Regions from separate parts of the Homo sapiens genome. Here region 1 is linked to region 2. Evidence: fine-mapped expression QTL. A gene starts in region 2. The other region holds a variant in brackets. All regions are shown on one strand. Distances are between the middles of the regions.

Region 1 (15,569 bases), 45 kb before region 2:
GGCAGTGCTGGGCCCTGTCCCTTCCTCCCAGGGCAGGTCAGCAAGGGAGGGTGGGCCCAGCCTCCCACAGGCAGATGTCCCCGGATCGGAGGAAGACACCCTGCTGAGGTCCTGGGCTTCCATTTCCCATCCCTCCACCCTAAAAACTCACTGAAAGAATGTCCAAGCCCAGAGGCCTGGTTCTCACCCAAACAGCGTGAGAGCTGCACACACTAGGGGAAACTGAGGCTAGAAAGTAGGTCAGCTGCCATGGTTGGCCTCAAACCCAGACCCCCTTCCTTGGGACCCTGATGGGCTTACCTGAGGCCTGGGGACAGTGGGGGCCCAGGAGAGCACCTCTTCCTCAGAAGACAGTTCTGGGCTGCACCCGCTGGGGAGGAAGAGACAGACTTGTCTGCCTGGGAAAGTCCCAGCCACAGAACTGGCTGGGCCCCCCGCCACTCTCCAGAGTGGCTCAGAGCCACGCCTGTGGCCCCCTGCAGCACTCCTCAGGGGGCCTCCGAATTGGGACTGGGATCTGGGGGTGGCCACCTCCGAGGAGGAGCAGAGGCAGGGAAGGAGCAGGAGCGGCCAGAGGACTCATGAGCTTACCTAGTCCAAGAGACCAGCCAGGGCGTGCCCAGCAGCCCCGGCGGACAGTGGGAGGCATCTGCACAGGGTGCAGGACAGGCAGGCCTCTCACGGAGGTCCAGCCTGGCTGGGAGGATGGGGAAGCTGACGTCACAGCAGCAAGGAGGCGCACAGTGACTTGGCATGGTGACTCGGCCTGTCACCACGTGACTAAAGTTCACGCAGCCCTGGGAGGGCCCTGGATGGCAGGTGCTATGAGCCGGGGAAAGGGTTTCCTTCCTTTCAGACTCAGTTCCCTCCAAAGGGCGCTGTCTGCCCACGAGCCCCTCCAGTGAGCCCCAGGCTGGTTCCCTCTGGCTCTCCCTGTCCCTGTTCAGAACATCTGAACTCACAGCCAGTGTCCCAGAGATGGCTCTGGAGGCGGTGGAGTAGTGGTGCCCCTGGCACTAGACCAGAACCCAGCCTAAGGGGCCTCACCACACGCTGCTGTCAATGCTAAAGGTGTGTTCCGGGAACATGGCCTGGGGCCCTGAGTGCAGACTGGTTCTGCTGCCCATCCAGAAACATTAGCACCCCAGGCCCAAGGAACCACCCGAACAGCCCAGAAAGGCAGGGCCCAGAGAGGGCCTGAGCTGGCCCAAGCTCACAGAGCCCAGCAGTGCAGGCTTGGCCACCTGGTAACTGCCCCAAGTTACTGCATGTTTCTGACCAGCCCACCAAGAAGTCTGAGCCAGGAACAGCTGCGGACCCAGCCCAGGGGACTTTGGACAGTGCTGCCCATTCCCCTGTGGCCCTCATCTGCCAAGGATATGGGCCAGAGTCTCCCTGAGTCATGGCTCCCTCCCCTGCTCCTGGGCCTGCTGTGTCTACGGTGCCGGAGAGCCCCTGCAGCCTCCACCTGAGGTCTATTCCGTGCCCATAACACCTACCCCACAATCATGCTTCCAGGCTGCCCCAGCTGACAGAAGGGGACATGAAGGCTGACCCAATATTGCTGCCTGCCTGGGTCACATAGGCCTGTCCTGTCATCCACTGCTCTCAAATGGGCTCTGGACAGAACCCACCAGACACACAACTGTGAGATCCTCAATAGCCCTAGGGTGGAGGTGCTGTGACCAAGTCCTTTCCCAGGCTATTCCTCCCCGTGAAGATCAGGGTGACTGGGAAGATGACAGGGCAGGAACCAAGGTCCCATGACCTGTCCCTGAAGGCTAGACAGCCAACAGGAACATCAGGGGATTTGGCCCTGCTAAGTGGCTGCATTCCATGGCAGTCAGCCAGGAGGGGTCTAAAGTGGAGAGCCACAGGGCTCTGTCCCCTGCCCCGGCCTGCTCAGCAGTTTCCTCTCTGCCTGAGAGCATATAAGACATGCATGTTCTCACTCATAGGTTGGAATTAAACAATGAGAACACTTGGACACAGGAAGGGGAACATCACACACTGGGGCCTGTTGTGGGGTGAGGGGAACGGGGAGGGATAGCATTAGGAGATATACCTAATGTAAATGACAAGTTAATGGGTGCAGCACACCAACATGGCACATGTATACATATGTAACAAACCTGTACGTTGTGCACATGTACCCTAGAACTTAAAGTATAATTTTATATATATAATACTATATATAATATATTTATATGATATATTATATAAATTATATAAATATAATATATGATATATTATATAAATTATATAAATATAATATATGATATATTATATAAATTATATAAATATAATATATGATATATTATATAAATTATATAAATATAATATATGATATATTATATGTAATATATTATATATAATATTATATATTATATATAATATATAATACACATCATATAATATTATATAATATATAATACACATCATATATTATATAATATATAATACACATCATATATTATATAATATATAATACACATCATATAATATATAATATATAATACACATCATATATTATATAATATATAATACACATTATATAATATTATATAATATATAATACACATTATATAATATTATATAATATATAATACACATTATATAATATTAAATATATAATACACATTATATAATATTAAATATATAATACACATTATATAATATTATATATATAATACACATTATATAATATTATATATATAATACACATTATATAATATTATATATATAATACACATTATATAATATTATATAATATATAATACACATTATATAATATTATATAATATATAATACACATTATATAATATTATATAATATATAATACACATTATATAATATTATATTATATATAATACACATTATATATTGTTATATAATATATAATACATATTATATAATATTATATAATATATAATACATATTATAATATTATATAATATATAATACATATTATATAATATATAATACATATTATATAATATATAATACATATTATATAATATATAATACATATTATATAATATATAATACATATTATATAATATATAATACATATTATATAATATATAATATAATACATATTATATAATATATAATATAATACATATTATATATTATATAATATATTACATATTATATAATATATAATATAATACATATTATATATTATATAATATATTACATATTATATAATATATAATATAATACATATTATATAATATACTTTATATATTATATATTACATATAATATATAATATATTACATATTTTATATATATATATGACATACAGGATTCACAGCAGCAGGTGGGCAGAAAGAAAGTCTGAGTGGGCAAAGGATGGCCCAGATCCCTGCAGCTGACCCCAAAAGGAAAACCCTGGGCTGGGGAAAGTAGGGAGACAGAGCTGCCTTCAATGGGGCACAGCTGAAGCCTGGCAGCAGCTGAGGATTCCAGAGAGGGGAGACAGGAGGGGAGGCACTTTATCAAAGGACATGTTAATAGAGGTAGGGCCTACAGAATGAAGGAGGCTTTTCCTCACATGCTGAGTGTGTCACATTCTGTCCCAGTCAGCCCTCTACCCCCTGAATGCAGAGAGGGCACCTAGGGGGAAGTGGGTCTGGGGAAGCCATGTCACCTGAGGAAGGACTGCAGGGGCTGGCCTAGAAGTCTTCTCCAGACCCCACAGCTCTTGTCCTGGGCACATAAGGTAGTGAGTTCCCTGTCCCGAGAAATGTGCAAGCCTCACTCACCCAGAGACACAGACTCTGGTGTCAGTATCACCCACTTCCAACACACGTGCAAGCACGTGCGCACACACACAACTGAGCCTCATTTAGGCTGAGCAGAGCAGCTTCCCAGGATGCAGCAGAGAGAGGAGTATGAGGAAGAGGTAGACACGGCAGCCAGTCTGAAGTTTCCTGGTTAATCCTTCAACCCAGCTTGATGGCTTTGTCACCACAACCCCAGAGCCACAAGGGTGAAACCAGAGCACAGCCCCAACCCCATTCACAGGCAGGAAACTGAAGCTTAGACAAAAGGGATTTTACGAGGTCAGCTGGCCCCAGGAAGTCTGCAGACCTGCGGGTAAGCCCAGGACCCACCCACCCCTTACCCTGCCAGCCCCCAGCCTGGAGTCGCTATCCCTCGATATGAGAATGCACAGATCTCTGGCGTCTTCCCCAGGACTGCCTACAGCCCTGGACTGGATGCTTACTACCCAGACGTGGAGTTGGAATCTGTCTCTCACAGTTTCCACCCTTGCGGCACAGAGCCGAGAATCAGAAAAAACACCCCTTCAGTAAGATTTAATAACCACTACCTGCTGGAAACCTGTCGAAAGAACTATATATATCCCTATATATATAGCTGAGAGGTGGCAGGCGCCCCCTGGAGTTGGGCAATGACCCCTCGCACAACCGGCCCTGCCCCACCCCAATCCACAGCCACAAACAGAACCCAGGAGCGAGGCAAGCATGGCCCAAGGACACAGGGTCCCCCAACCCCATCACAGCTCTGGCTCTACTCCAGAGCTGACCCCCCGCCCCCACTCAGGGCTGCCAGATCCTCCAGGGCCTGTCTGTTCATGCTGCACTCTTTCCTCTTAATTCCAAGAAGCCACGGCTCTCTCAAGAGCTTCTTCGCACAAGTCAGGTGACTCCCCCCAGCCCTCCTTCACCCACTCGCATACCTCACTCAAACTCACATAAACTCATCAGCCAAGAAACAGAGGCCCCCAGCCCAGACCCAGTCGGATAAAGAACCCAGGGCTCTGCCCACCTGTGGGATCCTTCTGCAGGATGCGCCCACACAAGTCTTGCCCCCTTCACCCCGAAGTGCAACTCACTCCCACTGCACGGGTACATAAACCGAGGCTTGGAGAGGAAGAGGAACTCCTCTAGAGCGCAGCAAGCATATGGCAGAGCTGAGAATGGGACTCAGGCCTCCAGACACTCATGGGAGTGCCCTGACCTGAGCTTCCCCACCTATGATGTCCACCAGCTCAGAGAGGGTGAGCGGCGCCTCTGGGTCACACAGCACTGGGGCACAGCCAACTGCTCTCACTTCTGGGCTCACCCGACGCCCGGTCTGGTCATCCAGCAGCACACCAAAACCAAGCTAAGATTCCCTGCTGTGACCCAGCTCCTCCTTCCCTCCCCTAGTGGCCTGGGGGCGGGGCGGGGGGAGGGGAGGCTTTAAAGGCACAGGAACTGCTGCAGGTGGGATGTGGGCTGGCTCCTGGTCCCATCCCTGAGGCTGTGATCTGGGACCGCTGCAGGCTGCAGGTGTCTCTGAGCCCGGTGGGGTCTCAAACCCTGAATGAGAGACCTGAACTCTGAAAGCCTCGGTGGGGCTGAATGAGGCTGGGTTTCAGCGGGAGGCAGATTAGACCAAAGGTTCCCTGGGAGATGGGGCCACAGAGCTGGGCTGCAGCCAGATGCCCACGCCAGGAGGGGCTGGAGATGTAAGCATCTGAGGCCCCACAAGGTCTGAGGAGCCTAGTTCACCTCTACAACCCCAGGGCAGGGGATGCCTCTCCTAACAGGCCCTCTCCCCAGCTTGCAGGACTACAGGTGGGGCTCTAGGAGCTGTCACTCCAAGGACCCTGGTCACCTGGACTGAAGGGAGTCACATAATCCAGGAGGGTCCTTCCTTGACCCCCAATTTCAGGGGTCTGAGCAAACAGGCTGACCGAGGACCCCAGGCAACGGAAGCAGGGGGATGAGGCCCATCTGTCCATCTCATGCCCTCACCTGCTCTGCCCCATTCAATGAGATGGGGTGGGTGCCCCCACAGCGCTGGCAGGCCGAAGCCTCTAAGCCCTCAGATCGAGGTCCACACATGGTCTGCAGCCTGCCAGTATTGTCACTCTTAGCAAGGCTCACGCTTACGTTCCTTCTTTCATTCCATCATTCATTCTCCCATCAAATCCTGGCCCCTCCAGATTCTTCTCTCAAGGAGCCCTGACCTGGCTGGGCATGAGAGTATGGTCACCCCAGGGGGAAGAGCCCTAGGGAAGGGGCAGACACCAGAATAGGGGCCTTGGGAATCCAGCCCGAGCTGGGATTGGATTTGGGGAGGACCTGCCAGGCGGAAGGAACCACCTGAGCCTGAAGGCCAGGAAATGGAGCCTTTTCCAGGAAGTGAGGGCTGCAGGGGACCTCTTGACCACCCTAGGCCCGTCCTGAGCCCCGAGGTGTCAAAGCTGGAAAAGGAGGTGGCCGAGCTAAGACGTTCAAGGCCAGGCCAGTGTGGACTTTGAGAGCCCTGGGAGGCTGGTGAATGTGTCACCGGGCCCAGTAACCCATTAACCCTGGCTCACTCATTAAGACCCTGGTGGGTGTCCATTAGCTCCTTGGCCAGTTACAGGAGCTGGGCAGAGGGTAGGGGTCATGGGAAGAAGGGAGTGCTGATTGGGGTGCTAGGTAGAGGCTGGCTGAGCTGGCTCTTTTGTGTCCTTGTTCCTTGAGGAGGGTTCCAGGGCCAAGCTGGCCTCCAGCCAGGGGCAGCTGCCAACACAGCCCGGGGCGGGTGCCGCCCCACCATCCTAGTGACTTTCATCTCCTTATCACCCTTGTGTGCTGGCACCAGCAGCCCACAGTGCCTCAGGGGCCTTGGCCAGACAGGAGGCTCAAAGGGCCAGTCCAGTGCCTGGCTCAGCATCCAGCCACACAGTCCCTCTGAGAAATGGGCCCACTGTGGCCTCCAAAGCCCAGTCTGTTTCAACGGGCTGGGATCTGCCCCACCTCTGTATCTGGGAAAACAAGGCCCTGGTGGGGCAAGAAGGGAGCTCCTGGCATAGGAACCTGCAGCCTGAGAGGGGAAGGGACCTGCCCAAAGCCACTCGGCAAGAGAGTGACCCATGACACCAGGAAGGCTGTGCAAACCACTTCCTGCAACTGGCATCTCATTGCAGCCCCACCCCCACTGACAGGTCCAAGAAGCTGACAACACTGAATACCAGCAATCACCCAGAAAGCCTCATGCCCTGAGTGGGCCATGGTGAGGGCCATGGCGGGGTGGGGTTGGGGGGCGCATGGGGGCATGACATCCCGAACTGCCATCATGAGGCTCACAATGATCGAACAATGCGGATCGGTCCAGATGCAAGCGGTGCCTGGCCCATACTCCAGAACCGCTGGAACAACATCTCAGGGACCCCTGGGAGCCAGAAACCCAATATTATCCAGGACATTTTGTGTCTCCTGGTGTCCTGCACCAAGGAGACACTTGGTAAACTGGCTAAATAGAACTGACTTCAAATCCAAACATCATAGCATTGGATTCAATATTAGGATCACAGAATCTCAAGTGTTTGCTCTCTGATCTTCCAGCATCCCAGAAAGGTTGGCTTACATACCTTCCCCAATGGGGAGCTCACTACCTCCAAAGATAGTGGGACTCTGGTTGGCTGGCAAGTTCTTACCAACATTAAGCGCCAATTTGCCTCTTTGTAACACCTGCTGCAGGTGGGCCTGGCCTCAGATCCTGCCCACTGTCTAAGGTCACAGAGCAGAGAAGCAGGGGCCACTCCAGATCCTGTACCTGGCCACAGCCTCTCTGAGCCACAAAGACCACACTGAAGGAATGGGAGGAAGACTTCAGCTCAATGGAAGTGCTGGTGCTACTCAGCTGTGATGGAGGGAGGTCAGCACAGGCCAGCTGTGGGCATGGGCAGAACTCCTGTGCCCCCAGAGCCTGGCCAACACCCCCAGTGCCATTTGTAGCATTTGTTATTCCAGCACCCACCTGTGATGTCAGGACACAGACTGAAGCATGGCCAAGTGCGTGGGCCCTTCAGAATTGTCAGCTTGTGAATGCCTGGGAGCACCCAGCAGCAGGGCTGGCCTGGCACTTGATGGAACAAGTCCAGCTCCAAAACTCAGAGGCAGGATGGCAGAGGCATGGGCCCTAGAGTCCCTGGGTTTAAACTCAACCCCAGCCACTGATAGTGTGGGTATCACAGCAGCCTTTCCCTTCCTAGCCTCAGTCTCCTACCTAGAGAGCAGGGATAACTAGAACAGTTGCTGGGTGGATTCCTTGAGATGACAATGCACAGACAATGCACCTCCTACTTTCAAGGCCTCACAGGGTCTGGCTAGGCTCCAACACCAGGCCTGTAGGAGCTTCTCCCCTTTCCTGATGAGCAGCTCAGAGCAGGGGCCCAAAGGGCCCCCCTCCTGGCCGCCCTGTCCTCCCTGCCCAAGGCACCCTCCACAGGTAGTATTTATCACATCACCTGGTAATTATCTGCAGTGTCTGAAAGCTCCAAGGAGGGGATGGGGGTGGAGGAAGACTGTCCATGCCCCAGTCCCGACACCATGCCACAGCCTGATCTCCAGGAAAGCCAACCCGCTCCTGTCTCAAGGCCTCCCTGGTGACATGCCCAAGCACACCTGTTCACCCACAGCCCCCTGTGACTTCACTGATGCCAAAACTGCGCAGCACTTTCCACGCATGCCATGCTCTCACCTGGACTTTTGGGGACCTCCCCCTGCCTCATAGCAGCACCTTCCC[G/T]ACCTCCCTCGCTTCTTGGATGCTGGGCTCAGGAATGCTCTCACTGACGAGTCTGCGCCCTGCTGGCTAATGTTTCAGATGCGCCAGGTGGACGTGCCCAAGCCTGAGCTAAGCAACTGCCACCAGAGCAGCCAGAGTCTAGCCCTGGGCAGCTACCCCTGCATCCTCACTGGGCCTGTCCAGCTGCTCCCACCTCTATAACCCACTACCAGCCTCACCTGACCTCCAGTCCCCATAGGCCAACCCTCTCACCTGGAGACTCCCAATCACAGGTCCCAGCCCCTCTGCTGTTTCCCTACTGCAGCCCAGGCACTTGGCATGCAAATCTGAGCACACCCCTCCCCAACTGAGAAGAAAACACTCCAGAGGCCCCCCTTGTCCTACCTTGCTGGTGCCCGTCCTTTCCTCTTTTTTTTTTTTTTTTTGGAGTGGGGCAGCTGGATATGAGCTATCCTTTCCTCTTGCTCCTTCCCAGTCTTTGGGACTTTGCACTGACTCCATTATCATGGAGACACTCTTCAGACATCAATCACAATGCCACCTCCTCCTGAAGCCCTCTGGCACTGCATCTCACTCTGCAGGCCGGCTGCGACTGCTGCCTCCTCCACAGTATCCACAGTGCCCAACAATCTTCACTGAATGGATGGATGCCAGCTGTCAGGTGGCTAGCTGTTTTTACTAAAATGCATCTTCTAGGACTTTACACTGAATCCACCTAGCCACCTGACAGCTGGCATCTCTAATCTTGTAATCCCAGCACTATGGGAGGACGAGGTGGGTGGATCACTTGAGACTAGGAGTTCAAGAGCAGCCTGGGAAACATAGAGAGACCCTGTCTTTAATTTCTTAATTAATTTTTTTAAAAAAGGCCCAAGAGGACAGGGTTTGGGGAGTTTCATGTGGAGGCTGACAGGAAGGGGAACAAGAACTCATCCATGGCCAGGTGCAGTGGCTCATGCCTATAATCCCAGCGCTTTGGGAGGGCGAGGTGGGTGGATGGCTTGAGCCCAGGAGTTCACGACCAGCCTGGGCAAAATAGAGAGACCCCATCTCTACAAAAATAAAAAAGTTAGCTGGGCATAGTGGCACATGCCTGTGGTCCCAGCTACTTGGGAGGCTGAGGGGGGAGGATCACTTGAGCACGGGAGGCAGAGGCTGCAGTGAGCTGAGATAGTGCCACTGTACTCCAGCCTGGGCAACAACAAAAAAAACCAACTCATCCATGTGTCCAGCTCTACCAGGACAGAAACTTCTGTACTTAGGAGTCTTCCAGTCTTTACCCTATGTATCTCTTCATCTGACTGTTTATTTGTAGCCTTTATCTTTTTTTTTTTTTTTTTTTTTGAGACGGAGTCTCAGTCTCGCTCTGTTGCCCATGCTAGAGTGCAGAGGTGTGATCTTGGCTCACTGCAACTTGCACCCCTCGGGTTCAACCGATGATTCTCCTGCCTCAGCCTCCCAAGTAGCTGGGATTACAGGCTCCTGCCACCACACCCAGCTTATTTTGTACTTTTAGTAGAGATGGAGTTTCACCATGTTGGCCAGGCTGGTCTCCAACTCCTGACCTCAAGTGATCCACCTGCCTCGACCTCCCAAAGTGCTGGGATTACAGGCGTGAGCCACCGTGCCCGGCCTATTTATAGCTTTTAAAGTTTCCTTTGAGCTACTGACTTTAAGGGATGATAAAGTATGTCTGAGGAGAAAATAAAATAAAACATCCTTTGAAATAAACCGATAAACAGGTCTCCCTGAGTTGTGTGAGCTACTCTAGCAAATTAATTGAACCCAAAGAGGGGGCCTTGGAACCCCAACTAGAAGCCAGTTAGTCAGATGTTCCCAATGCCCAGACTTGTGACTGGTGGGATGGGGGTTGGTCTTGTGGGACCAAGCCCTCAACCTGTGGTTTCTGAGGCCATCTCCAGGTAGACAGCACCAGAATTGAGTTGAATTGGAAGACACCAGCTGGAGTCTGCTGCAGAATTGATTCTTGCTGGGTGTGTGGGAGAATCCACAAATTTGGTTACAAGAAGTCTTCTGTGATGATTATTGTCTTGTGAGAACAGAGGCGAAACACAGTTGTTTTGTGTGTGTGTGTGTGTGTGTGTTTTTGAGATGGAGTCTCACTCTGTCACCCAGGCTGGAATGCCGTGGTGCTATCTCGGCTCACTGAAACCTCCGCCTCCTAGGTTCAAGCGATTCTCCTGCCTCAGCCTCCTGAGTAGCTGGGACTACTGGCACATGCCACCATACCCAGCTAATTTTTGTTTTGTATTTTTTAGTGAAGATGGGGTTTTGCTATGTTGGCCAGGCTGGTCTCAAACTCCTAGCCTCAAGTGATCCGCCCACCTTAGCCTCCCCAAAGTGCTGGAATTATAGGTGTGAGCCACCACGCCAGGCCAAAAAACACAGTTTGAGTTGGTTTTTCCTCACACGACCTTATTTGGAAATAGAGTCTCTACATAAGTAATTAGTTAAGATGAGATCATACGGGATTAGAATGAATGAGCCCTGTTGGGCACAGTGGCTCACGCCTGTAATCCCAACACTGGGAGGCTGACAGGGGTGGATCACCTGAGGTCAGGAGTTCAAGACCAGCCTGACCAATATGGTGAAACGCTGTCTCTACTAAAAATACAAAAATTAGCTGGGCGTGGTGGCGGGCACCTGTAATCCCAGCTACTTGGAAGGCTGAGGCAGGAGAATCGCTTGAACCTGGGAGGTGGAGGTTGCAGTGAGCCAAGATCATGCCATTGCACTCCAGCCTGGGCTAACAGAGTGAGACTGTCTCAAAAAAAAAAAAAAATTAAAATTAAAAAAAGAATGAATGAGCCCTAAATCCAGTAGCTTCAGTTCTTTTTTTTTTTTTTTTTTTTTTGAGACAGAGTCTCGCTCTGTCACCAGGCTGGAGTGAAGTCACCACGCAATCTCAGCTCACTGCAACTTCTGCGTCCCGGGTTCAAGCGATTCCCCTGTCTCAGCCTCCCAAGTAGCTGGGACTACAGGCATGTGTCACCACACCAGGCTAATTTTTTTTTTTTTTTTTTTTTGTATTTTAGTAGAGACAGGGTTTCACCATGTTGGACAGGATGGCCTCAATTTCCTGACCTCATGGTCCGTCCACCGCAGCCTCCAAAAGTGCTGGGATTACAGGCGTGAGCCACCGCACCCAGGCACTAGCGTTATTACAAGGAGGCCATGTGAGCCGGGCATGGTGGCACTCACTCATAATCCCAGCTACTTGGGAGGCTGAAGCAGGAGGACTGCTTGGACCCAGGAGTTCAAGACCAGCCTGGGCAACATAGTGAGACCCCACTGCAAAAATAAGGAATGCCATGTGAAGGCCACACAGACACATAGGGTAGATGGTTTCAGAGACTGGAGTGATGCAGCAGCAGCCAAGGAAGGCCAAGGATTGCCAGGAGCCACCAGAAGCTGAAGAGACAAGGAAGGATCTTCCCCTGGAGTCCTCAAAGGGAGTGTGGCTTGGCCTATACTTGGATTTCAGACTTTTAGCCTCCAGAACTATTCTGTTGCTTTAAGCCACTGAGTTTGTGGTAATTTGCTATGGCAGGTCCTTACTCTGCCTATGGTTACACATCCAACAAGTGGCAGCCCAGGGGATTTGAATCCAGGCCCTGAGCCTATACCTGTGATCTCGCCTCACCCCGCCAAGCTCTGCTGCCTACTACAGCCTCATGACAATTCCTGGCCCTGCAGAAGGTTGACAACCCGTTCCTGTAGAGCAAACACAGAGGACATTCTGTCTCCATAGAGTATCCATCTGCTTCCTTCCTCCTAGCGAATGCCCCCAAACCATTCTGTGTCCTTCTTTACAGTGGCTACCAGGAGGCTCAGTGCCACTCAGCTACTTGCTGAGGTAACATTAACCCTGAGCTGGCCTTTTTCCCTCCTGGGCTTGAACAATACTACTGGGTGGGTAGAGAAGGGCCCAGAGGCAGTGCAAGGCCAGTTCCAGCCCTGGCTGCAGCCCTCTACCTGCCCATTGGGCCAGCTGGACCTTGTGTTCCTGTCATTTGAACTAGGCCACCGCATGGGTGGCAGAGGGCTTGAGACTCCAAAGGTGTGGCTGTCATCAATTCTTGTCTCCTGGCAGGTCCCACTTGGAGCCTAGTACGTTCCCATCAGGGCCTGAGGTCTAGCTGTGTCCTCCCTACCTGATTCTCCAGCCCCCAACCTCCCAACTCACTGACTCACTAGGGATGGCAGGGCTACCCTGAAGAATCCAGGGCAAGCCCTTGAGCTTCCACATCAGCCCCGGGAACTGAGAGGACAACATCGCAATCCCTCCACCCCATGGAGTCTCAACAAACACAGCTCTGCTGCTCAGGGTAACCCCAGGGAGACGGGCCAGCAGCCCTCCGTGAAGAACACATGTGGGCTAGCGAGGTGGAATCATGCCCCCATGCCTGAGGGGAGAGCTGTGCCTCTGGGGGCTGCTGTCCAAGTCAGGTTAGGCCAGAAATTGTCTCCAAAAGCCCACTCGCCCTAGGCACCCCACAAGCAGGCAGAGAAAAGCCCATCCAAGGATCTAGGCCCAGACACCACCCTCCCTCTTTTGCTGGAAAAATGTCCTCCAGGAACCTCTCGGCCAGGGACACAGAGGGTGGGGGATGAGAGGCAGGGGCTGGGGCAGTTCTCTGCCTTCCACAGGACTCTAAGCTCTGAGCACTCCCCCATACCGCTGCCTAGGTTGCCCCTTTCATGCCTCCAGGCTCAGCCCTCCATTCCCTCCTTTCTCCCCTCCCCCTGCCCAGTATTCTCACATTTGAGGGGACAGTGCCCAGGCCTGGCTCAGCCTCTGGGAGGATATGGTCAGGATCTGGGAGCCCTCCCAGCTGTGGCTCCAGCCCTGAGGCTGCAGGGGAAGAGGAGGAGGGCTTACCGGGCTGCCTGCTCTGGGCAGGGGGGTCTGAGAGGTCCCTGGGGCATCAGAGCTGCAGCTTAAAGCTCTGACCGGGTAGGTTGCCACTTCAGTTCAGCAACAGCGCCTTGGCCCTGGGGGAGGGCACGCAAGGCCGTCATGCAGGTTTGCCAGGGAGGAAACCTGTGGTGCCAAGGTGGCCCCAGGACAATGCTGGCTGCACTGGAGTGGGAGGAGAGGCTGTTGGGTCCAGCTGGCAGGTGCCAGGGGAGAAGGGGGTGCAAGCACTGCTCCAGCAGGGGTTGGGGGTCCGTGGATGGTCAAGGGGCTAAGACATCCTGCTGTCCTCTGCCTTGTCTCAGGGGCCCAGCCCCACAGGATGACAGAGCCTAGCACCCTGCCCTCTCCCCACTGCCATCTCTGGGCAGGCAGTGCTTAACCCAAAGGAAGGAACCTTGAATCTTCATAGGGTAATTAGCAGACACACACACACACACACACACACACACACACACATACACACGGGTGCTTGGCTGTCGTCCCTCATATATGCCCTCGGACAGTGCTCAGCCCTTCCTGCACAACAGGTACCAGTCCTCACAGGCTAAACACGTGCTCCTTGCTTAGAGAAGTGGGAACTGCAGATCAGTGCCTCAAACGTTCCCCACGCAGGAGATGTGAGCGTCCCAGAGCCGGGATTGGGGCTGCAGGGGCCCAGCAGGCCTGCAGCAGAGACCTAGGCTTCTGCTGAGGGAGCCCTGGGAAGTGGGATACACCTTGAGCTGGGTGGGTCCGTACCTCACCCTGGTCCTCAGAGGAGCCAGGGCCCCCATCTCACTCTGCCTGCCGCCACCCCCACCCCTTGTCAGGGAGGCAGACTGAAGCCAGCGGCAGATACAGCCCGCCTGCTGCCAGCTTGCCCAGAGCTGGGCTTAACGGTTAACCTGACTCTTCGTCCGGTTTATTTCCCAGGCTGGGGTCAGAGGTGGGGGCCTGCCCCAAACCAAGAAGCAGGAGGCAGTAAATATTTGCCAGTGCAGGAGTGTCCATGTAGCGTGAGCAGGTCCTACACCACAACTGCCAGCTGCAGAGATTTCTTTTCTTTTCTTTTTTTTTTTTTTGAGACAGAGTTTTGCTCTGTCACCCAGGGTAGAGTGCGGTGGCGCCATCTCGGCTCACTGTAACCTCCGCCTCCCAGGTTCAATTGATTCTCCTACCTCAACCTCCCGAATAGCTGGGATTACAGGCGCCCGCCACCACGCCCGGCTAATTTTTTGTATTTTCAATAAAAATGTGGTTTCACCATGTTAGCCAGGCTAGTCTTGAACTCCTGACCTTAGATTCCGCCTGCCTCGGCCCCCCAAAGTGCTGGGATTACAGGCGTGAGCCACCATGCCCGGCCTAATTTTTGTATTTTAGTAGAGACGGAGATTCACCATGCAGGGCATATTTCTAAAAGCAATGGGGGCAATACCTAACACTGGCACACACAGCAGAACCCCCCCACCCCGCCTAGAATGCTCTTTGCACGGTCAAAGCGACTATTCCCCAGTCAGCACTGGGGCCAGAGGGTAAAGAGGTGCCAAAAGCCACCTCGTCTCGGCCGAGCTCCGCGTCTCCCCTGGCGGCTCCAGGCCCTCGGGTTCTAGCGCCAAGACTGACGCAAGCAGGGCCTCCTCCAGTGTGATCAGGCCAAACCGAGGAACCCACTGGCCTCGCTCCGGCGCGGGGTGGGGCGGGCGCTCAGCCTTCGGACCCGGACGGGGCAGGGCCGCGGTGATTGGAGGCGGGGCGACTAGGGGCGGCCCCGGGAGCGGGGCGCAGACAGCCCGGCCTCCTGTGGGTTCGGCGACCATCGCGCGGCGGCCATGGGGGCGCGGCTGGGCCGGCGGGCCGGGCCCGAGGCTGGCTCTGAGGCCGGGGCGGCGGCCGGCTGCGGGCCCGCGCCCTACGAGCGCCGGGTGCGGTGGCTCCGCGAGATCCAGTCCACGCTCCGCGAGCGGCGGCCGGAGCGCGCCCGGCAGCTGCTGCGCCTCCTGCGCCAGGCGAGAGAAGGAGCCGTCCGCCCCTGGGCTGGCGGCCAGGGAGGGTCTGGGGGTCTGGGGGTCTGGGAGGCGCGGGGCTATGGGTTGTGGGCCTGTATCCGCCGGGAG
Region 2 (15,569 bases):
AACAAAAGCTCCCTGCCTTCCCAGCTTAACCTCAGATGCACACCCTCTGACCCGATAAGCACCATTTCAGGGACCTCATCCTGAGTTTCACATACACATATTTCCTCTTCTTCCTTTAAAAAAAAAAATATATATATATATACACACACACACACATATATATACATACATATATACATACATACACACATACACACACACACACACACACACACACACACACACACATATATGAGACAGGGTCTCACTGTGTTGCCCAGGGTGGTCCCAAACTCTTGGGATCAAGTGATCCCCCTGGCCCAGCCTCCCAAAGTGCTGGGATTACAGGCATGAGCCAATGTGCCTGGCCATATTTTGCATTTTCAAATGTCAAAAACAGTGCTAAGATAACAGGATACTTTAAAACTACTTGAGGGACCATAAAAGGGTATTTTGTATGGGGATGTTGTCGAGGATATCATCTAATAGTGTCTCCTGTATCTGAGTGCCAGGGAAATCCACACAATTGCTATTTTAACTTAAGAACACTATGCATTTTGGAACTGATGATCTTCCCTGCTTAATCTTACACTGGAATATACCTTTATTCAATGTACAGAGAGATTCAGGTTTACATTTCTGGATACTGACTGCTTGGCTTCATTTTACATTCTACCCCAGCTTACCTGCACCATGATCTATGCATCTACTTTTATCCTGCCATAGAATTTTTTTAATTTTAGAGATAGGGTCTTGCTCTGTCACCCAGGCTGGAGTGCAGTGGTGCGACCAGAGCTTAATGCAGCCTGAACTGCTGGGTGGGCTCAAGTGATCCTTTTTGCCTCAGCCTATGGAGTAGCTGGGACTACAGGCATAAGCCATCACATCCAGATAATATATTTTTTATTTTTGGAGATGGAGTCTTGCTCTGTCGCCCAGGCTGGAGTGCAGTGGCGCGATCTTGGCTCATTGCAAGCTCTGCCTCCTGGGTTCACGCCATTCTCCTGCCTCAGCCTCCCGAGTAGCTGGGACTACAGGCGCCCGCCACCACACCTGGCTAATTTTTTGTATTTTTTTTAGTAGAGACAGGGTTTCACCGTGTTAGCCAGGCTGGTCTCAATCTCCTGACCTCGTGATCTGCCCGCCTCAGCCTCCCAAAGTGCTGGGATTACAGGCGTGAGCCACAGTGCCCAGCCCCACATCCAGATAATTTTTAAACTTTTTTGCTTTTCAGAAGAGACAGGGTCTAACTATTTCTGAAAGAGGATAGAATAAAAAGTAAATACTAAAACCCCAAAACAGGGCAGGTGTGGCTTAGGCCTGTAATTCCAATACTTTGGGAGGCCAAGGTGGGAGGATCGCTTAAGTCCAGGAGTGCAAGACTAGCCTGGGCAACAGAGTGAGATCCTCTATTTATCTTTTCCGAATCGTTGTGGTGTGCTTTTGTGTGTGTGTGAGACTAGGTCTCACTCCGTCGCCCAGGCTGGAGTGCAGTGGCACTCCATAGCTCACTGCAGCCTTGACTTCCTGGGCTCAAGTAATCGTCCCAACTCAGCCTCCACCTGAATGGCTGGGACTACAGGCATGTGCCACCACATCCGTCTATTTTATTTTTTTTACAGACAAAGTCTTGTCATGTTGCCCAGGTTGGTCTTGAACCCCTGGGCTCAAGTGATCCTCCTGCCTCAGCCTCTCAAAGTGTTGGGATTATAGGAGTAGCCACCACATTTTGTCCCACCCCACTTTTATAACAGAAAATGTTATTGAACAAGCAAGGAAAAGTGCTAAGAGGATGTTCTCATTCCCAAAAGGCAGAATGACTGGATCTGGGAAGGACAGGCAAGCCTCACAGCCTGAGATGTGCTGAACAAACTAAACTGTGCTCAGAGTTCACCCACCACCAGCTTTAGCTACGCCACAGTCTGCTGGCTCTTATTCAATGTGCCTAGGTTTTGATAGACCCAGTGAGGCCTCTACATCCTGTTACAGGCTAAATTGTATCCCTCAAAAAAATTCATTGTTGAAGTCCTAATACCCAGCACCTCAGAATGTGATCATATTTAGAGACAAAAAATCTTTACAGGCCAGATGTGGTGGCTCATGCCTGTAATTCCAGGAGTTTGAGAGACTGAGGCAGCAGGATCACTTGTGGCCAGGAGTTTGAAACTGGCCTGAAAAACATATCAAGACTCCGTCTCTACAAAAAAATTTAAAAATTAGCCAGGTATGGTGGGGCACACTGGTAGTCCTGGATACTTAGAAGACTGAGGTGAAAAGATCTCTTGAGCCCAGAAGTCCAAGGCTGCCCATGAGCTATGATCAAACCACTGCACCCCAGCCTGGTCAACAGACCAAAGCTTAATCTCAAAAAAAAAAAAAAAAAAAAAAAAAGAAAAGAAAAAGGAAAAGAAAAAAAAGGCTGGGTGCAGTGGCTCATGCCTGTAATCCTAGCACTTTGGGAGGCCAAGGTGGGCAGATTGCCTCAGCTCAGGAGTTAGAGACCAGCCTGGGCAACATGATGAGCCTCCATCTCTATTAAAAATACAAAAAATATTAACATTAGTGGGGTACGGTGGCCCATGCCTATAACCCCAGCTACTCAGGAGGCTGAGGCAAGAGAGTTGCTTAAACCCGGGAAGACGGAGGTTTGCAGTGAGCTGAGATTGTGCCACTGTACTCCAGCCTGGACAACAGAGCAAGATTCTGTCTCAAAAAAAAAAAAAAAAAAAAAAAAAAAAAAGGCCAGGTGCAGTGGCTCACGCCTGTAATCCTAGCACTTGGGAGGCTGAGGCAAACTCAGGAGTTTGAGACCAGCCTGGGCAACATGGGGAAACCCTATCTCTACTAAAAATACGAAAAACTAGCTGGGCATAGTCCCAGCTACTCAGGAGGCTGAGGCATGAGAAGTGCTTGAACCCAGGAGGCAGAGGTTGCAGTGAGCTGAGATCATGCCACTGCACTCCAGCCTGGGCGACAGAGTGAGACTCTCAAAAAAAAAAAAAAAAAAAAAAAAAAAAAAAAAAAAAAGCAAGCAAGCTGGGCATGGTGGCTCACATCTGTAATCCCAGCACTTTGGGAGGTCGAGGCGAGCAGATCACAAGGTCAGGAGTTCGAGACCAGCCTGGCCAATATGGTGAAACCTGTCTCTACTAAAAATATAAAAATACAAAAATTAGCTGGGCATGGTGGCAGATGCCTGTAGTCCCAGCTACTCAGGAGGCTGAGGCAGGAGAATCGCTTGAACCTGGAAGGCAGAGGTTGCAGTGAGCCAAGATCGCGCCACTGCACTCCAGCCTGGGTGACAGAGCAAGACTGCAGCCTGGGTGACAGAGCAAGGCTCCATCTCAAAAAAAAAAAAAAAAAAATTCTTTATAAACATAATTATGTTAAGATGAAGTCATTAGAGTGGGCCCTAATCCTACATGCATGGTATCCTTATAAGAAGAATCTGGACAGAAACACTACAGAGGGAAGACCAAGTGAAGACACAGGAAGAGAGCCATATATAAGCAAGGAGAGAGGCCTGAAACAGATCCTTCCTTCACATTCCTCAGAAGAAACCAGCCTTGCCAACACCTTGATCTCAGACTTCCAGCCTTCAGAACTATGAGAAAATAAATTTGTGTTGTCTAAGCTGCCCAGTCTGTGAAACTTTGTTATGGTAGCACTAGCATACAAATACAAGCAGGGAGGCAGGTGGCTGTCCCCCACCATTGGTCAGGCATGGTTCCTTCTGAGGCCAAGGTGCTATTTTTATCCCTGATTTAGAGGAGGGACCAGAGGATGAAGGAGGTCCAAAGCTAAGCTCGCCCCAAGTCACCCTAGGGGGCAGGCTACAAGCTGATTCCAGGTCTGTCGGACACCAAGGTCTGTGCACTTTGTGTCATGTTGACTGCATCTCTGAATGGCTACCAAGGTTATCTGGTTAGACACCTTCACGTTACGGATGGGATGACAAAGGCCCTGGAAACCCAGCAAGTTGTCCAAATACATACAGCTAATTGAACAAACCCATTAAGCTTCACTAACCCAAGTCTTGCATTCTCCTCACCAAATTAAAGAACCTTAAAGTGGATGAGCATGCCTTAAGCCAGAGGACTGGATATATGAGAGATGATAAACTTATCTACCCTCAATAGATAAACTGATCTATTGACAGTAATGCAATAAACCTGAGTCACCAGAGGTCTACTTCTCTGCATTCAGGGAACTGACCAAGCTTGTCAACCTCGCAGGAAGATGACAGACGCTCAAAGCTACAGAAAAATCACAAATAAATGAACCCTGCAAACCAATGGATGGTCAGGATGCCTGACCGCGGTGTAAGGTGCTTTACCTCTCTGACCTTCTCATCTGGAAAAAAGCAATAGGTATCATATGTTGAACACTCACAGTATGTGAGGCACTGAGCAGCTATGGCACACATACAGCTCATCTGATCTTTGTAAAAGTCCTGGGGGTGTGGATATTACCCCTGTGGCAGTCTTAAGGGTGTGCTGCTCACATCTCCCTTCAAAAGAGAACAGGCTATGAGGAGTGCAGGCAGCCGACAATCTCCATCTTTGCAGTCCACCATGGCATTCAACTTGAGGCTACTCTCTCCCCATGTTGCCAGCCTGAACACACCGGGGGTGCCAGTCCGCCCATTTCTGCCCCATGCTAGACTCTTCTAACGAGCAATCGCTGCCTTGCTGAGATTTCCTCAAAACTACGCTGTAGTCTAAGGCTCTTCCTGCTCAATCCTCCTTCCTTTCCCCTCTCATTTCACCAGTCAGACCAGCACCATAGACTGAAAATTTCCCTGCCTACTACTGCTTCCTTGCTCTTTTATCCTTTATTGTCATTTCCCCCAATAAATACCTTGCAAAATTCTGTCTTGGCATCTACATCAAAGAACCCAACATAATACCACCCCCATTTTACAGATGAGAAAACTGAGTGGTTAATACATCTAAAGTCATATAATTAGGATTCAAACCCACATCTCTCTCTGACTCCCAAGTCCAAGTTCTTAACCAGTGGTTTAAAGAACAAAGAAAGTGTGAAGATACAACTGAAAAACAATGCTATAAAAATTCAGATGACTATGCAAAAGGCAAAGTTGTGCCATGAGAAGGACACCATATCAGGAAACTACTCCATTATTTATCATCAGAGTGATGAGCCCTTTAATCTCATTCTCCCTATTTTATGGATGACAAGACTATCACCAAACCTGCTTACCTCACAAGGTAGTTGCAATAATCAAATGAGACTCCTCCTCCAAGAGAAAAGGGAAACAAATACAGTAGGTGAGAAGATTCTGCTAATCGCAAAGCAAGTGGAGGCAAATGGATAATGGCCCTGAATCTGAAGGATTCTACTGAAGGAAGTAGCACTTCTCCCAAATAGACCCCCATATTTGGGGATGGAAAAAACAAAAAGGACAAAGTAAAATATTCCAAACCTCCAAATGGCTTTTCTGCCTCAAGATTATGTGTCTCGTTCATGCCCACACCCCCAGAGCCTATAACAGCACCTGACTGGTATGCATTAGGCACTTAGGAAATCACTGCTGAATGAGAACAATTTCCAGAGACCCTCAACACACACTTTTCTGTCCTTCAAGACACAGGGCCATTCCTCCCACACAGCCTCACATGCAAAGCAGAATACCTGGCAGTTCATGTTGTCCTCTGCTTCAATGAGCTTCCCCCGATATACCTCACCGGTGTTCGTCTCACATGTCACAATGTGGCCCTCGGCCTCATGCAGTACTTTAATCGGCACACCAATAGACATCTTGGCAGGAAGAGAGTTCTACAATGAGAGAGACAACAGTCAGTTCATCTTTCAGAGTCTGAAAAGGCATGTGGCACACATCATGCTTCCTTTAAGGCCTGGCACTCCATAAAACTTAGCAAAAACACCAAAGCTGCATTTTCTACCAAGGAAAAAAAAAAAAGCTCAGCTCCTGGTTTGGAGGAAACTATCTGGCAAATATGTGCAAGATGTGGGGTGAGGAGGAATGATGGGATGGACAGAAGTAAAACTAGGAATGAAAAGAGAGCATCTCCCATGGGTCATGTGTCCCCGCTACCCTATGTCCCTTAATCTTCAGCTAAAGGACCATTAGCCAATACTGTGTGTGTCAGGGGAGGGGGACTGGAATGTTAATTTGTTGCACTGTTATTTGTTAACCCTTAATTGTAGATGATTACGTTTTGAGAATAATACAGGCCCGAGCTGTCCAATACAGCAGCTCATGTACACACGTAGCTATTTAAATTAAACTTAACTAAAACACAATAGAATTAAAATAAAAAAACCCAGTCCCTCAATCCCAGTGGCCATATTCCAAGTCCTCAACGGCCACATGTAGCTAGTGGCTACCCTATGGAAGGTGCAGATACAGACCAAAGGACCATGCACATCTAGGAGAGCAGGCTGTACTTTTAATTCAGCCCTTTAACCCTTCACTTATTTTACTATCAAGGATATTGAGAAAATATCAAAGTGACAACGTGCTATATGCAGGAAATGCTTGTCATGGAGGAAAATCAGGGAAAGCACCTGACTTGACCTAATCAAAAGCATCAAGCAGTGAACTTTTTATTGAGATGAGCAACAACTCTAAGTTTCAACTTAAGCGTACCTAAGACAGGAGAACATGAGGTTGAAAGGACAGGCTCCTTTGGTGAGGATCCCTGGCTTTCAGCCTTAGGAGTCTAGATTTTATGCTGAAGGTAGTGGAGAACCACTGCAGAATTATATGTAAAGAATGACGCAATGAAAAGATAGCAGCATTTATTTACAAAATGGATAGAACGTAAGGTTTAGAAGCAGAGAAACTTGTTAAAACTTCTGCAACAGTTAAAACTGCTGCAACAGTGTGGAAAGCATGAGGGGACCATTGCCTGAAAGGGGACTGGGGCAGAGATACAAAGAACTTTTTAAAAAATGACCGGCTGGGCGCGGTGGCTCACGCCTGTAATCCCAGCACTTTGGAAGGCCGAGGCCGGTGGATCCCTTGAGCCCAGGAGTTCGAGACCAGCCAGGGCAACATGGTGAAACCCCGTCTCTACTTAAAAAAAAAAAAACAAAAAAAAACTCATAGGATTTGGGGGAAGGAGATAGTCAATCAGAAATGACTTCGAGATTACTGCCTGGAAGCTTTGAAAAACACTCACCTGGAGAGATACAGAATGTGAGAAGCATGCACGTTGAGGGGAAAGCTAATGAACTTACTTCCAGGAGCTAGTGAGGCGACGCTGATGTTTGGGTGGCCCAAGCTTCCCGCTTTCTTCCCTCCCCGAGCCCCGCAGAGTTCCATGCAGCAAGTCTTTCTCCAGCCCCTGGCCCCTCACAGGCGCCTCGACCTCCCCTCGCCCGTCCCCAGCCTCACCGGCTCTGGCCTACTTTTCTTCTCTTCGGTCCGCTGCGAAAGATGCTACGGCGAAGGCGTGAGTCAAGCGAATGGCGGGCCTAACACCCAGAATTCCACTCTTTCCCAAAATGCTGCGCGCAGGGCCCGCCTCCTTCCTTTCCCCAGTGTTGAGCGCGGTCTCGCCTCCGCTTCCTCCTCACTCCGCCTGCCGGCTGGGAAACTAGGGCACCAGTACGATAGTTCCGGCACCGGAAAAGAGGGCTGATGACTGGGCCCGGGGGCCGCCGCAACGACCCTTGGGGCCGGCAAAGAGCCAGAGAGGGTGCTCACACTTCCAAGCACCCCACACCAAGGACAGGCTGGACGGCAAGGCGGAGACGCGGGGCTTGGGCCCTCAGACCGGGGACAGCAGGAGGTTGGGCCAAGGGCCAGGACTTCCCGTCACAATTTCATTTGTTGATCCCGGCACCGCCAGGTAAGGGGGGCCCTGAGTGAGGCTAGGTATCTGGTACGGATAAAGTTAGGTATAGAGTAGAGCGGCTGCCCGCTCAGGGTTATCCCTAAAGACAGTTGGAGGAGAGTTGCTTGGGGCCTCGGGGATGCACTGGGCGGGATCAGGGCTTACACCTAGGACTGGCAAAAGAGCGGGACCCGGCAGAGGCGGGGCTTGCCGAAGGGACGAGCCTCTATTCAGGAAATGCACGAGCTTTGGGGCGGGGCTCAAAGAAAGGGGCGGGGCTTCCGGGGCCCGCGTCCTGGTGAGCTGCGCGTCTGCGCGAGGATTGGGCGAGAGGGTGGGGCCACTCAACGCTGAGGCGGCGAATGGCCGGAGCAGACTTAAATCAAGAGGCTGGGGACCTCTAAGATCAAAGTTTGGGGCGGGGCCTAAGGAGGGGGCGGGGCCTCCAGATTCGAGACCTGGAAGGGCTGGGGCGGCGCTTGGGGCGGCCCAGCCGCCGCCTCCCGTTCTCTCCTCCGCAGCGGCGGCGGTGGCGGAGAAGGAACTCGACACGCACCGACCGCCCTCCCGCCCCAGCCGAAGCGGAAGCTGTAGCCCGCTCTGGGCCGGGGCCATGGGCGCCCCGCGCCGCCCGGGTCATGAGGACGGAGGCGGAGGCAGCGGGGCCGCCGCTCGAGCCCGGTCAGTGCCTCTCTGTGGGCCCAGTCTTCACCCTAGGAACGAAAGGGACCCCTCCCTAGCGCGGGGCAGGGTCCAGTCGCGCGACCTTGGGCCGACTCCCGCCTCGCCCCCACACCCGCCTGGTTCCAGTCAGTGGGGGTTTCCTGACACTCGCAGGATTGCGACCCTTGTCAGCATGGTGGGAAGGTCCGGGTAGCAGGGGCACCACCTTCCCCAGAAGCGAAAAGTCCTGCTGGAGCCGCCTTGGGAGCTCCCATGCCTTGGGAAACCGTGGAGGACTGAGGCTGGGAAGGGCAGGAAACTGGCCGAGAGCACCGAGCAATGGAAGGGCCAGTGCCCTGGCCTCCGAGACTCGGCGTTTTGTCTTGCTCTTGTTCTTCACTTTCGTTCTCTCTGCCACGCGGTAGCCTGAGCCCCTTTGGGGCGGAGACCCGGACTGGTATTCAATGTCTTGGCCGTTAGTTTGCTTGCCCAAGACGTAGGGGAGGGGGAAGACGTGATTCCTGTCCTGCTGAAGGCGCGGGGTTGATGACAAACGGAGTTCTAGCTAGTAAACTCTGAAGTGAAGTGCCAACTGTGGAAGAGGTCAACAGCATGTGGGACCCTGACCTTCAGGTGTCACTCCCAGGGAGTGTTCCCTTTTGTGTCTGCTGTGTGGAGTTGGTGGGGGATTTACAACCCTCCTCCTCCAGTTGTCTAGCCCTGTGGTCTGAGACAAGATACTTGCCTTTCCTGAGCCTCAGAGGAGGAATGGCTTACATTCACAGGGAGTGTTCTATGAGGCAGGCGCGCGCTGCGTGCAGTTGTTTACATGCAGTGCCTCATTAATCCTCATAACGAACCAGTGAAGTAGGTGCCCACTGTGATTTGCACTTTTGCAGCTGAGCAGACTGAGTCTGAGATGGGTTAAGTATTAAAGGCTAGTGCACTGCTTGCCTTCCTTAGTGACAGCCACTAACTGAGCTCAGGCCAGGGCCTTCCAGGCAGCCCTTTGGCTCCAGGCAGCAACGTCTGGCTGTGGCTTTGTGTTTAGAAGGCTAAAGCTGTTATGGGGACAGATGCCAAGGCCTCGCCTAACCTTATCACCCCCAACATGAGCACCTCTAGGTCCGATCCGCCCTTGCCGAGGCTGGAGATGGCCCTGTGGGGCCTGCCAGGCCTCAGGATCAAGGAGTTCTAGAGCGCAGGGCAAGAGGAGGAGGCGCAGCTGAGTCTCTGAGAGAGAGCTGCTGTCTTGTGCCACATTTTATAGCTGGACATGGAAAGGCATGGACAGTCATAGCCTGGCAGAAGATAGCCCAGCTAGTCAGTGTCACAGCCCAAGCCACAGAGTAAGGAGGGAGCCTCACACAGAGGGCTGTAGTCTGGAAGCCTGGGGGAGGAGGGGTGCAGAGCAGGGAAGTGACAAGTAGGCCTGGGCATCTCAAGGTATGAGGTCTTTTTGGAAAACGCCTTCCATTCCCCAAGCATATCTAAGTGCCTACTCTGGGCTGAGGGTTGGAAGGAGGCAAATGCAACCTCATCCCCATCTGCCACTGAAGAATTCTCATTGCCTCTTTAAGGACTCCATATTGAGGGGCCCTGAGAGTGAGAGGGATTAGAGCATGGAGACAACATTAACATTTCAGACTAAGGCTCATCAGCTATCATTAGTGATAGTGTAGTTTATGTGTGGCCCAAGACAATTCTTCCAGTGTGGCCCAGGGAAGCCAAAAGATTGGACACTCCTAGACTAAGGGATGTGCAAGAGCAAAAGCTGGGGAGGAAACAGTATGAGTAGAGAAAAACAAAAAGGCAGTGTGTGGCTGCTGTGAGGGGTTCTTGAACAGGCAGGCATTCACCGTGACAGCACAACATCCTGCATAGAGCTCTCCCACTGCTCAGCTCTTTATGAGTCCCTAGGGGTCAGGGCTTGGGTGGGTCTTTAGTTACCTTTGTGTCCCCAGAGCCTAGCAAACAGTGAGGGCTTATTTTATTTTTAATTATCTGGGTGTGGTAGCGTGTGCCCATAGTTCCAGCTGCTCAGGAGGCTAAGGTCAGAGGATCCCTTGAGCCTGGGAGTTCAGGGCTGCAGTGAGCTCTGGTCACACCACTGCACTCCAGCCTGGGCGACAGAGTGAGACCCTGTTTCAGAAGAAAACAAAAAGTTCTTTTTTTTCCTTTTCCTTTTTTTTTTTTTGAGATGGAGTCTCACTCTGTCGCCCAGGCTGTAGTGCAGTGGCGTAATTTTGGCTCACTGCAACCTCCGCCTCCCAGGTTCAAGCAATCCTCCTGCCTCAGCCTCCCGAGTAGCTGGGATAAGAGGCTCTGGCCCCTGCCCGGCTAATGTTTGTATTTTTAGTAGAGACAGGGTTTCACCATGTTGGCCAGGCTGGTCTCAAACTTCTGACCTCAAGTGATCCGCCTGCCTTGGCCTCCCAAAGTGCTTGGATTACAGGCGTGAGCCACTGTGCACGGCCTAAAAAAAGTTTATTTCTTCCAGCAAATATTTATTGAGTTACTATTAAACATTCAACACCAGCAACTGAGAATAACAGTGAACAAGATCAGCAAGTTTCCTGCTGTCTCAGTTCATTTGTGCTTCTATAACAAAATACCTGGGACTGGGTAATTTAGAAACAATAGAAATTTAATTTCTTTTTTTCTTTTTTGGAGATGGAGGTCTCACTATTTTGCTCGAACTGGTCTGAAACTCCTTGGCTCCTCTTGCCTTGGCCTCGTGAGTAGTTGGGATTACAGGTGTGTGCCACTGTGCCCAGCTCTAGAAATTTAATTCTTCACAGTTCTGGAGACTCTGAGGTCCAAGATCAAGGCGCTGGCAGGTTCTGTGTCTGGTAAAGGCCTGTTCCTTGTAGATGGTGCCACCTACGTGTCCTCACATGGTGGAAGGAACAGAAAGGGCATGAACACTGCTTTTACATGACAGAAGAACAGAAGGGCAAAAAAAATGGCCTATGCTAGTTTCCTCCAGCCCTTTTATAAGGCACTAGTTCACTGATGAGGGCAGAGCCCTCCTGACTTCACAAAAGGCCACACTTCTTATTTATTTATATTTTTGGTTGTGGATATCTTCTGCACCCATTTCTTCATACCACCACAATGGAGATTAAGTTTCAACATAAATTTTGGAGAGGATACCATAGCACCTGCCTTCAGGAAGCTTGCCGTCTCAAGAGAGTGGCTTGATGCTATTGTTACTTTTGCCAAGCACTGTGAAGGAAACGAATAGGATGCTGTGAAGGAGAGTTCCCTCGTTTCTCAAAGGCTTAGTCAGAAAAACCTCTAAGAAGAGATTTTGAGCTGGGACCTGAATGACTAGAAGGGACACAACCTTGAGAACAGCAGCCGGGAGAGAGTTTCAGACAGAGGGATCCTCACGTGCAGATGCCTTGGGGTAGAATGAAGCCTTGATGAGTTCACAGGTTAACTAGACCACAGGTGAGGGCAGCCAAGATGAGGCTGGCGGGCCAGGTTAGGCAGGGCCCCGGTAAGGGATGAGAACCTTATTCCAAGAGCAGTGGGAAACTGAATGGGAATCCCTACGGCTGCTGTATGTAGAGGTGGGAGAGGTGCTGGGAGTGGAATTTGGGGCAGGGACAGGCAGGGGTCAGTGCCACTGAATCCTTGGCAGTGATAGCAGGGGAACATGTGAGCGCCTTGAGTGAACGGCCTGGGTATCTTTTGGAGGCATCTGGGTTAAGAGGAAGGAAGAGAATGAGGCCTCAGTCCAGCCTGGGCTTAGCATACCAGGCCCCAGCTGGGGGCAGGTTCACATTATTAGCACCTGCAAAGGGCTTTATAGACGTTCTTGTCCTTAGGGTTCACATCACCCTGCAGGCTGGCGTCTGGTAGTCCATTTCACAGAGGAAGAAGCAGGCACAGAGAGGCCAGGCAACTTAGCTAGCAGGTGGCCTGCTTTGCTCATGCCATTGTGCCTTCCATGGGCCCTGCTGCACATGGAGTAGAAAGACACCAGGAGCAGTGATAGGTCCCTGCCTCTTGGGAACGTATAAGCAACACAGGAGGGCACAGACAAGCTCAATGCAAGGGCCGCATCCTAGGAGGCAAAGTGTGAACTCAAGCCCAGAGAAGTACAGATGAGTGAAAGGGTGTAGCCAGTCTGTGATCAGGGAAGGCCCTGGAAATGGCCTCTGAGCCAGGCCTTGAAGGCTGGGGAAGGTCAGACATAGGAAGGGAGGAACTTGGGATTCAAAGCCTGGTAGGTTGGAAAGGCCAGGACAGATCCCAGGACTAGTGAGTGGCCGTCTTAGCTGGCGCACACAGGGAAGTGAGGGGAACTGGGGCTGGCACAGCAGGAGGGCTCCTGGGGTGGCTCTACACAGAGCTGGTCACACAGTCCAGGAGAGACCTGCCAGATGGGGAAACAATGTGGGCAAGGTTTTCACGTGCTGAATGAGTGTCATGAGTGAGTAACAGCAGAGATAAGTCTCTTCCTCTTTAGACTCTGAACTTTGTCCAGGTTCATGAGGTGGCTACGGAGGAGGGTCCTGCATGCCACAAGCCCATTTGCCCCACCTCAGGGCCTTAGCACATGCTGTTCCCCCATCCCCTCTAAGGCACACCCCCACTGTTTTCCCCAGCCTAGGCCTCTATTTTGCTATGTTTGCTTATTTTTGCTATCCACCAGGAGAGTGACTTTGTGTCATTCACTGCTGTATCTCCAGTACACACACCAGGCACTTACTAGGCTTTTGGGAAATATTTGTTGACTGAATGACTGAATCAGACCAAAGTCCCCCTGTTTAGGGATGGCCAGACTCATTCCAGCAAGAGGAAGTCAGCTGCCCAGCCCACAGCCAGCCAGCAGTGGCACAGTTGAGACTGGAACGCTAGGTCAGGCCCTTTCTGCTCCACCTCACAGCCTGGCAAAGACAGACCGAGAGGTCGCCCAGGGTTGGTGGGGGATGGAGCTCACAAGAATATTACATATGCTTCATAGCTTACGTGACAGTTCCCTTCTCCTGGCCATGGTCTCACACCCTGGTGGTCCTGGGGTCTTTGGAGTCAAGCAAACCTCCAGGGGCCTCATGAACTCAGATACATTATCTGCTGAGTGCCTCCCATGTGCCAGCCCTGGAATGAAAGCAGGAAACAAAACAGCCCCTGCTGGCCAGGCGGAATGGCTCACGCCTGTAATCCCAGCACTTTGGGAGGCTGAGGTGGATCACCTGAGGTCAGGAGTTCGAGACCAGCCATGGAACCATGGACAACATGGTGAAACCCCATCTCTACTAAAATTACAATAATTAGCTGGGCATGGTGGCGCACGCCTGTGGACTACAGGCTGCTTGGGTGGCTGAGGCAGGAGAATTACTTGCCACCCGGGAATCGCAGGTTGCAGTGAGCCGAGATCATGCCACTGCACTCCAGCCTGTGCGACAGAGCAAGACCCTGTTGAAAAAAAAGAAAAAGACTCTGTCCCTCCTCCTCAGAGCTCCCACCAAAAGAAGGGCTTTGAGTAGGCATGGTGGGAAGTGAATGCACATGTGGGTCACTGGGCCTGAGAGGGGCAATACTGGAGAAGTGACATCCAAGGGCAGGAGTTAGCTCAGGCACCTGGGAAGCCAGGTATGTCCAGGCAGAGGAACCAGGTGTGCAAAGACCTCCAGGGTGTGAGGGATTATGACAAGCAAAGGCAAGGGTGCAGAGGGTGCTAGGGCAGCAGCCATGGAGGTATTGTCTTAAGGAATGTGGGACCCAGCTCACTGGAGGATTTTCAGTTGGGCTGACCTGCTCTGGCCGGTGTTTTGGGGAGATCACTGCTATTATAGGAGCCTGGATTTGAGGGGATTCCTGAAGGATTGTGGGAAGGTCCCTGAGCAGCCCCTGCAGGGTCTAGGCAGGAGGCAGTGACACTGGCTCCCATGAGGGTGGGAGTGGTGGGCTCTGCGCTGAGGGTCTGTGACCTCCCTCTGTTTCTGCACAGGGGACTTTGTGCAACTGCCTGTGCCCGTCATCCAGCAGCTCTACCACTGGGACTGTGGCCTGGCCTGCTCCAGGATGGTGCTGCGGTGAGTGGGGCCAGGGCTGGGGGCCCAGGTGCTTCCCATCTACATCTTCTGCTCTGGCTTGGGAGAGACCTGGGTGGGATCCATGGTCCATGTAGCTATCTTTGGTTGGGGCTTGCAGGAGGCCAAGCTTCTACCTGGTCCTAGTCCCATCTGCAAAAGTGAGCAAGGGGTGGACCAGGCCTTCCAGCTCTCCATGATAGTAATGTCTGGGGGCTTGGGGTGGCCAGGAAGTCCCAGGTGCCCAGGCCTGTCCTACAAGGCAGTTCTGTGACTGGGATAGGAGGCCCTCCACTCCCCAGTTTCTGGCTCCTGGGAGAATGGGGTGCTGACCGTTAAGCTGAGGCTGTGTGAATATCACAGAAACCTGGACAGTGAGAGCCAAGAGGGACTGTAGCCGTCACCTTGTACAAGAGTTTTTCATTTGGCTTCCTGGAACCACAGGGCAGCTGCATCTTCATCTGTTTTACATCCTGGGAATCTCAGCAAGAGAAAATTCAACAAAAGCGTTCTTTGCCTAAAACTTTGAAAACCACTGATGTGATCAGGGACCTTATTTTAGAGATGAAGCTAAAGAGGCCAGAGAAGACAATGACTTGCTCAAGGTCACAGCCCACAAGACACAATAGATTTGAGAAGCAGAGTCCAGGCCTGCAACTCTGGAGCCAGGACGGTGCCCCAAGCAGCCTGGGCAGTGTGTGGGCAGGACCTAGGGTCTCATGATGAAGGAGGGAGACTTCTGGGGAATGGGACCTGTGACGGGGCTCTTGGGCCAGTGGGTGGAGGGTGACTCAGACCAGTTGACCCTCAAGACCAAGCTGAGCTCCCCAGCTCGTCTACCTGCAGGTACCTGGGCCAGCTGGACGACAGTGAGTTTGAGAGAGCCCTGCAGAAGCTGCAGCTGACCAGGAGCATCTGGACCATCGACCTGGCCTACCTGATGCACCACTTTGGCGTGAGGCACCGCTTCTGTACCCAGACCCTGGGTGTCGACAAGGGCTACAAGAACCAGGTGAGCGACCAGCCACCAGGCCTTCCCATGTGGGGCCACACA

The links. PIP is the estimated chance that this variant, and not a neighbour inherited with it, causes the effect. A credible set is the group of variants that fine-mapping cannot tell apart.
Region 1: its variant is the best candidate, but not a certain one, in a credible set for the expression of SNRPD3 in whole blood (TOPMed, PIP 0.60).

Annotation. Positions count from the first base shown.
Region 1 is chr22:24,592,755-24,608,323 of GRCh38, reverse strand. It overlaps GGT1 (gamma-glutamyltransferase 1), which reads right to left and starts at 5,131. Exons shown (of 16, transcript NM_001288833.2): 1 at 4,797-5,131; 2 at 301-370. LRRC75B (leucine rich repeat containing 75B) reads left to right here and starts at 15,251. Exons shown (of 4, transcript NM_207644.3): 1 at 15,251-15,461. The coding sequence starts at 15,285. RefSeq lists enhancers at 97-627, 3,821-3,910, 3,318-4,282, 4,283-5,248, 12,818-13,788 and 1 more and a silencer at 15,124-15,353. The variant G/T (reference allele first, on the strand shown) is at 8,535.
Region 2 is chr22:24,547,866-24,563,434 of GRCh38, reverse strand. It overlaps SNRPD3 (small nuclear ribonucleoprotein D3 polypeptide), which reads right to left and starts at 7,436. Exons shown (of 4, transcript NM_004175.5): 1 at 7,364-7,436; 2 at 5,635-5,778. The coding sequence starts at 5,760. GUCD1 (guanylyl cyclase domain containing 1) reads left to right here and starts at 8,297. Exons shown (of 6, transcript NM_001284254.2): 1 at 8,297-8,486; 2 at 14,434-14,518; 3 at 15,362-15,527. The coding sequence starts at 8,444. RefSeq lists enhancers at 1,021-1,522, 3,857-3,906, 7,629-7,728 and a silencer at 8,189-8,548.